Homo sapiens: one gene and its partner. Each later gene encodes a partner of the first gene's protein in a complex. Each region holds a gene or a part of one and is shown in the gene's direction. Other genes may lie near its edges.

Region 1 (3,654 bases):
TGCATCCTTTGCCTCCCAGGTTCATGTAATCCTCCTGCCTCGGCCTCCTAAGTAGCTGTACGTATCGGGGGGCCTGCCCCGATAATCACGTAGGTTCTTTTCTATATTCCTAAGCATTGGCTGGCTTGAGAAATAGAAGGACAGAGTACAAAAGAGAGAAATTTTAAAGCTGGGCGTCCGGGGGAGACATCACACATTGGTAGGATCCGTGATGCCTCACAAGCCACAAAAACCAGCAAGTTTTTATTAGGGATTTTCAAAAGGGGAGGGAGTGTGCGAATAGGTGTGGGCGACAGACATCAAGTACTTAACAGGGTAATAGAATATCACAAGGCAAGTGGAGGCAGGGCGAGATCACAGGACCACAGGATCAAAGCGAAATTAAAATTGCTAATGAAGTTTTGGGCACCACTGTCATTGATAACATCTTATCAGGAGACAGGGTTTTGAGATCAACCGGTCTGACCAAAATTTATTAGGCGGGAATTTCCTCTTCCTAATAAGCCTGGGAACGCTATGGGAGACGAGTTTATTTCACCTCTGCAATCTCGACTATAAGAGACAGGTACGCCCCGGGGGGCCCGTTCAGAGACCTACCCCTAGGTGCGCATTCTCTTTCTCAGGGACGTTCCATGCTGAGAAAAAGAATTCAGCGATATTTCTCCCATTTGCTTTTGAAAGAAGAGAAATATGGCTCTGTTCTGCCCGGCTCACCGGCAGTCAGAGTTTAAGGTTCTCTCTCTCATTCCCGGAACAATTGCTGTTATCCTGTTCTTTTTCCAGGGTGCCCACATTTCATATTGCTCAAACACACATGTTGTGCAATTTTTGTAGTTAACGCAATTATTACAGGGTCCTGGAACGATATACATCCTCCTCAACTGACAGGATTAAGAGATTAAAGTAAAGACAGGCATAGGAAATCACAAGGGTATTGATTGGGGAAGTGATAAGTGTCCATGAAATCTTTACAATTTATGTTTAGAGATTGCAGTAAAGACAGGCATAAGAAATTACAAAAGTATTAATTTGGGGAACTAATAAATGTCCATAAAATCTTCACAATCCACGTTCTTCTGTCATGGCTTCAGCCGGTCCCTCCGTTTGGGGTCCCTGACTTCCCGCAACAGGTACGCACCACCATACCCAGCTAATTTTTGTATTTTTAGTAGAGACAGGGTTTTGCCATGTTAGCCAGGCTGGTCTCGAACTCCTGACCTCAGGTGATCCACCCGCCTTGGCCTCCCAAAGTGCTGGGATTACAGGCGTGAGCCACTGCACCCAGCCTAATTTTTGTATTTTTAGTAGAGACGGGGCTTTGTCATGTTGGCCAGGCTGGTCTCGAACTCCTGATCTCAGGTGATCCGCCCATCTCGGCCTCCCAAAGTGCTGGGATTACAGGCTTGAGCCACCCACCTACCCACCCCCACCGCCACCTTCTGTTGTCCTCTTTTGCAAGGGAGGAAACCGTCAGCCCCTCAGTTTCCTTTCTCTGCTCCTCAGCCTTTCAGTGCCTCTTAATCTCTCTCTTCTCTGCTCCTCGTGTCATAAATAAGCAGTCCAAGGTCACTCAGCAGGGAAGTTTAAACCGAGGCAGTCTGGCTCTGGTTCCTTAGCCACTACTCCAGACCACTGCTGCTGTTCTCATTTGTTTATAAATCACTTAGCAGTGTCTGCCCCATTGGGTAGTTGTGAGCATTAACTGTCCCTGTTCACAGAGGAGAAAGGTAGGCTCAGGGAGGTGAAGGTTACACAGCTGGGAAGCACTGGGACTGGGATTGGAACCCAGGCATGTCCAATTCCCAAACTCCAGAATAAAGCAGCTGCCTGGCACCTGGTGAGGATTGGGGACTTGGAGGTGCCACTGTGGCCACGTCTCTTGTTCTTTTTCTTAGGTACCAGTTCAACCCAGCCTTCTTTCAGACCACGGTCACCGCCCAGATCCTGCTGAAGGCCCTCACCAACTTGCCGCACACAGACTTCACCCTGTGCAAGTGCATGATCGACCAGGCACATGTATCCTTCCAGCACTGGGGCCGGGGGGTGTGTGGGAAGGGGTCAGAGTCAAGGTGCATGAATTCCCAGGGAGATGGTCTGTGGGTGTATCCACAAACAACAAGTGCCTGCTCTGGTCCAGCGTGGCAAGGTGCTGGACAGTGCTGGGACACTGGTGACTGAGACAGTCCTGGGCCCTGTCTTCACAAAGTTGTCGCAGTCCAGTGAAGAGTCAGTGATAGACTGGAGTGGTCAGGGTTGGGTTACAAGAGTCACAGCAGCCGGGCACAATGACTCAGGCCTCTAATCCCGGCACTTTGAGAGGTCAAGGTGGGTGGATCACCTGAGGTCAGGAGTTCGAGACCAGCCTGGCCAACATGGCGAAACCCCATCTCTATTAAAATACAAAAAATTAGCCAGGCACAGTGGCACACACCTATAGTCCCAGTTACTCAGGAGGCTGAGGCAGGAGGATCACTTGAAGCTGGGAGATGGAGGTTGCAGTGAGCCGAGATTGCGCCACTGCACTCCACCCTGGGTGACACAGTGAGACTCTGTCTCAAAAAAAAAAAGAAGAGCCAGAGTAGGCACCTGACCATTTGGGTGGGGGAATATGTGGACATGAACACAGCCATCTGTATTTACATTCTATAGAACAATGTCTGGAAAGGTGGAAAGGTACCCAAGAATTGGAAATGACTGTTACCTCCCAGGAAGGATGGCTGTGAGACAGGGAAGGGAAGACCTATTTTGCCACTGTTCACTCTTCTGTATTTTTAACTAGAAACTATAAACCAGGGCCTCCTGGAGGAGGGAACATCTAAAACATAACGAGTTAGGTGGAGGGGTAGGCAAAGGTGATCCAGGCAGAGAGGACACTCATGGGCTAAAGGAAGCAGAGCTCGGTGCTGTCTTTCAGGAATGGTAGAGGAAGCCTGACATAGGAATGATTTAAGGTGGGTTTTTTTTTGTTGTTGTTTTATTTTATTTATTTTATTTTTTTTTTGAGACGGAGCCTTGCTCTGTCACCCAGTCTGGAGTGCAGTGGCGTGATCTCGGCTTCCTGCAACTTCCACCTCCCAGGTTCAAGCTATTCTGTCTCAGCCTCCTGAGCAGCTGGGACCACAGGTGCATGCATGCTACCACGCCCAGCTAATTTTTGTATTTTTAGTAGAGACGGGGTTTTGCTATGTTGGCCAGGCTGCTCTCGAACTCCTGACCTCAGGTGATCCACCCGCCTCAGCCTCCCAAAGTGATAGGATTACAGATGTGAGCCACCGTGCCCAGCCTATAGGTTTTATTTTATTAGTAATAATAGTAGGGTTTTTTTGTTAATATTTTCTTTTTTTTTGAGATGGAGTCTTGCTCTGTCATCCAGGCTGGCGTGCAAAGGCGTGATCTTGGCTCACTACAACCTCCTCCTCCCGGGTTCAAGTGATTCTCCTGCCTCAGCCTCCCAAGTAGCTGGGACTATAGGCACGTGCCACCACACCCAGCTGCTTTTCGTATGTTTAGTAGAGATGGGGTTTCGCTATGTTGGCCAGGCTGGTGTCGAACTCCTGACCTCAGGTGATCCACCCGCCTTGGCCTCCCAAAGTGCCAGGATTACAGGCGTGAGCCACCAGGACTGGCATGTCATTTCTCATCTTTTGCCATTAC
Region 2 (3,654 bases), on another chromosome or scaffold:
CTTTAAAACACTTCTGAAAGGTACAAAAATGTACTTGATCAAATGGAAAGACAGTTCTTATTCTTGGTTAGGGCAGCTCAGCATTATAAGATGTCAATTCCCCCTACATTAATTTATAAATTTAATGCAGTACAAAAAAATACCAACAAACATTTCTCTGGAGTTAGTCAAGTTGATAATAAAGTTCACATAGAAAAGCAAACATGCAAGAATTATTAATGGAAGTCCTTTTCTTTAGGATAACTGGGATGACGATGATGATGAAAAAAAAGAGGAAGCAGAAGTAAAACCAGGTGAGCCACTGGGGCGCCTCCATTTTTGTTTTTATGTCTTGCTGAGCATTTGTGACTTGTATTAAGACAAATGACAGAACGCTCACAAAATGGAACATTTTGGTATTTAGAAACCAAGTGTCCTTCCATTCCCACTTTATTCTGTTTTCCCTGCAACTTTTCTCTATCGCCTCAAAATATAATCAGATTAGATACTTGCTGTATTTCTGTATGAGTGCTTGTTAGTAGGAAAGGGTAGAGGTTCTGGCATTAATTATAGTTGAATGATCTAAGCCCTGCCTATAGGACGGTGGGGAAATATGAAGAGATATTTGGATCTTAGGGGTCACATTAGAGAGGAGAAGGAAGAGTCCCAGAAGTTTCCCATTATTTGTGAGAAAAATCACTGTTTGAAGCTGGGAAAGGTTTGGTCTCTTAATAGTATACAAGTATCATGTCTGTCTCATCCATAAACTGGAAAATACTCAGTATAACTGAATAAAACTTTTTTTTACTTTTAGAGGTAAAAATTTCAGAAAAGAAAAAAATAGCAGAGAAGATAAAAGAGAAAGAACGGCAACAGAAGAAAAGGCAAGAAGAAATTAAAAAGAGGGTAAATTCTGTTTTCTAAAATACAGAATTCTCACATCGGTAGTGGTATAGTTTCTAACAGGCTGCAAATATTACCTAGGAATTTGAAGGGCTCTGTGAAGACTGTAAATGGATACCATAAGATAGGTAAAATCCAAAACAAATTGATTTGTGGTTTTTGCAAAAACAGAACCCAGTTTTATATATGAGTGTCTTTTAAGTTTTCACAAACATTCAGGAATAGTCATGATAGTGCAGTGACTACAGTCAGTGATTTTTGCCAGTGCCTGTAGTTCATTCTAGTCAGCAGTATTAGTTTTTGTTGTTGTTTTTTGTTTTTTTTTTTTGGAGACGGAGTCTTGCTCTGTCGCTAGGCTGGAGTACAGTGGCACAATCTCGGCTCAGTGCAACCTCTGCCTCCCGAATTCAAGCCATTCCCCTGCCTCAGCCTCCTGAGTAGCTGGGACTACAGGAGCCACGGCGAGCTAATTTTTTGTATTTTAGTAGAGATAGGGTTTCACCATGTTGGCCAGGATGGTCTCAATCTCCTGACCTCGTGATCCACCCGCCTCGGCCTCCCAAAGTCCTGGGATTACAGGTGTGAGCCACCGCGTCTGGCCAGGATTAGTTTTTATTTGCAGTGTATATATTGAACATAATATAAAAATTGTTCATTTCTGTGCCATGTGCTATATAAATGTATTTGTTTTTGATTTTTTGGCACAGGATCAGAAATATATGCTTGTTTTTTTTTGTTTTTGTTTTTAGACAGAGTCTCACTCCGTTACCTAGGCTGGAGTGCAGTGGTGTGATTTTGGCTCACTGCAGCCTCCACTTCCCAGGTTCAAGCAATTGTCATGCCTCAGCATCCCAGGTTGGAATTACAGGCACACGCAACCATGCCTGGCTAATCTTTGTATTTTTAGTAGAGATGGGGTTTCGCCATGTTGGCCGGGCTGGTCTCAAACTCCTGACCTCAAGTGATCTGCCTGCTTCGACCTCCCAAAGTGCTGGGATTACAAGCATGAGCCACCACGTCCAGCCTATTTTCTATTTCTTTTCTTTTCTTTTTTTTTTTTTAGAGATGGAGTTTCACTCTAGTCGCCCAGGCGGGAGTGCAATGGCGTGATCTTGGCTCACTGCAACCTTCTCCCGGGTTCAAGTGATTCTCCTGCCTCAGTCTTCGAGTAGCTGGGACTGCAGGCATGTGCTACCATGCCCAGCTAATTTTGTATTATCAGTAGAGATGGCATTTCACCGTGTTGGCCAGGTTGGTCTCAAACTCCTGACCTCAGGTGATCCACCCGCCTTGGCCTCCCAGAGTGCTAGGATTATAGGCGTGAACCACTGTGCCTGGCCTATTTTCTATTTCAGAACACATTTACATGGTTCAAAAATTAAAACAGCCTGCGTGGTGGCTCATGCCTGTAATTGCAACGCTTTGGGAGGCTGAGGTGGGAGTATTGCTTGAGTCCATGGATTTGAGACCAGCCTGGACAACATAGGGAGACCCCGTCTCTACAAAAAATAGAAAAATAAGCTGGGCGTGGTGGTACATGCCTGTAGTATCAGCTGCTTGGGAGGCTAAGGTAGGAGAATCACTTGAGCCCAGGAAGTTGAGGCTGCAGTGAGCCATGACTGCGCCACTACACTCCAGCCTAGGTGACAGAGCAAGATCCTGCCTCAAAACAAAAAAAAAAAGAAGAAAACGGCCAGGCGTGGTGGCTCACGCCTGTAATCCTGGCACTTTGGGAGGCCGAGGCAGGCAGATCACAAGGTCAGGAGATCGAGACCATCCTGGCTAACACGGTGAAACCCCGTCTCTACTAAAAAATAGAAAAATTAGACGGGCGTGGTGGCGGGCGCCTGTAGTCCCAGCTACCTGGGAGGCTGAGGCAGGAGAATGGTGTGAACTCAGGAGGCGGAGCTTGCAGTGAGCGGAGATCGCACCACTGCACTCCAGCCCGGGCGACAGAGCGAGACTCCATCTCAAAAAAAAAAAAGAAAAAATAATTATATTCCAGTATAAAGAGAAGATAGATATACACTAAGCTGTCAACTGTCATGTCAGAGAAGTGGGTTTGGGAAACAAATGACATCTACTATTATATCTTTAAAATTTGTTATAGTGGTAATTTTATAATTATACAATATGATGAAAAGGGGAAATGTTTTGAACCATTCTGTTGGACATTTAGGTTGTCTGTAAATTTATTTGAAATTATGAATAATACTCTAATGTACATTCTTGGGCTTACATATTTGTGTGCATCTTATTTCTTAAGGTAAATACCTGGAAGTAGAATACTTGATTAAAGCATGTAAAAATATTATTTAAGACTTGATCCATATTACCAAGTTGCCCTAGAAAGGGTTTTCCAATATAGTTTTAGTAGCAGTGTATGAAAGTAATATTTTTACCTTGTCCACAGTCTCAATTCCTTTTTTTAAAAAAGGTTATAGAAGTAACCCCAGTCTTCCTGGGTACAAATCTGTCACGTTACCAGCTGTTACCTTCTATTTAGTTGTGGGCAGGTTGTTTCTTTGTGCCTCCATTGCTTATCTTTAAAATTGGGTTAAGGATACCTAAAGTGGACTGGGCGCAGTGGCTCACACCTGTAATCCCAACACTTTGGGAGGCTGAGATGGGCGGATCACTTGAGGCCAGGAGTTCAAGACCGGCCTGGCCAACATGGTGAAACCCCATCACTGCTAAAACTACAAAAATTAGCTGGATGTGGTGGTGCACGCCTGTAATCCCAGCTACTCGGGAGGCTGAGGTATGAGAATC

The links. Proteins that work in one complex are often made in the same cells at the same time.
Region 2: EIF3K (region 1) and EIF3J share a complex: the UniProt entries of both Homo sapiens proteins name them as parts of the eukaryotic translation initiation factor 3 (eIF-3) complex.

The regions. Positions count from the first base shown.
Region 1 is NC_000019.10:38,622,182-38,625,835, forward strand, and holds part of EIF3K (eukaryotic translation initiation factor 3 subunit K), read left to right. Parts: intron 1-1,895; coding exon 1,896-2,016; intron 2,017-3,654. UniProt on the Homo sapiens protein: Component of the eukaryotic translation initiation factor 3 (eIF-3) complex, which is required for several steps in the initiation of protein synthesis.
Region 2 is NC_000015.10:44,550,638-44,554,291, forward strand, and holds part of EIF3J (eukaryotic translation initiation factor 3 subunit J), read left to right. Parts: intron 1-238; coding exon 239-293; intron 294-793; coding exon 794-885; intron 886-3,654. UniProt on the Homo sapiens protein: Component of the eukaryotic translation initiation factor 3 (eIF-3) complex, which is required for several steps in the initiation of protein synthesis.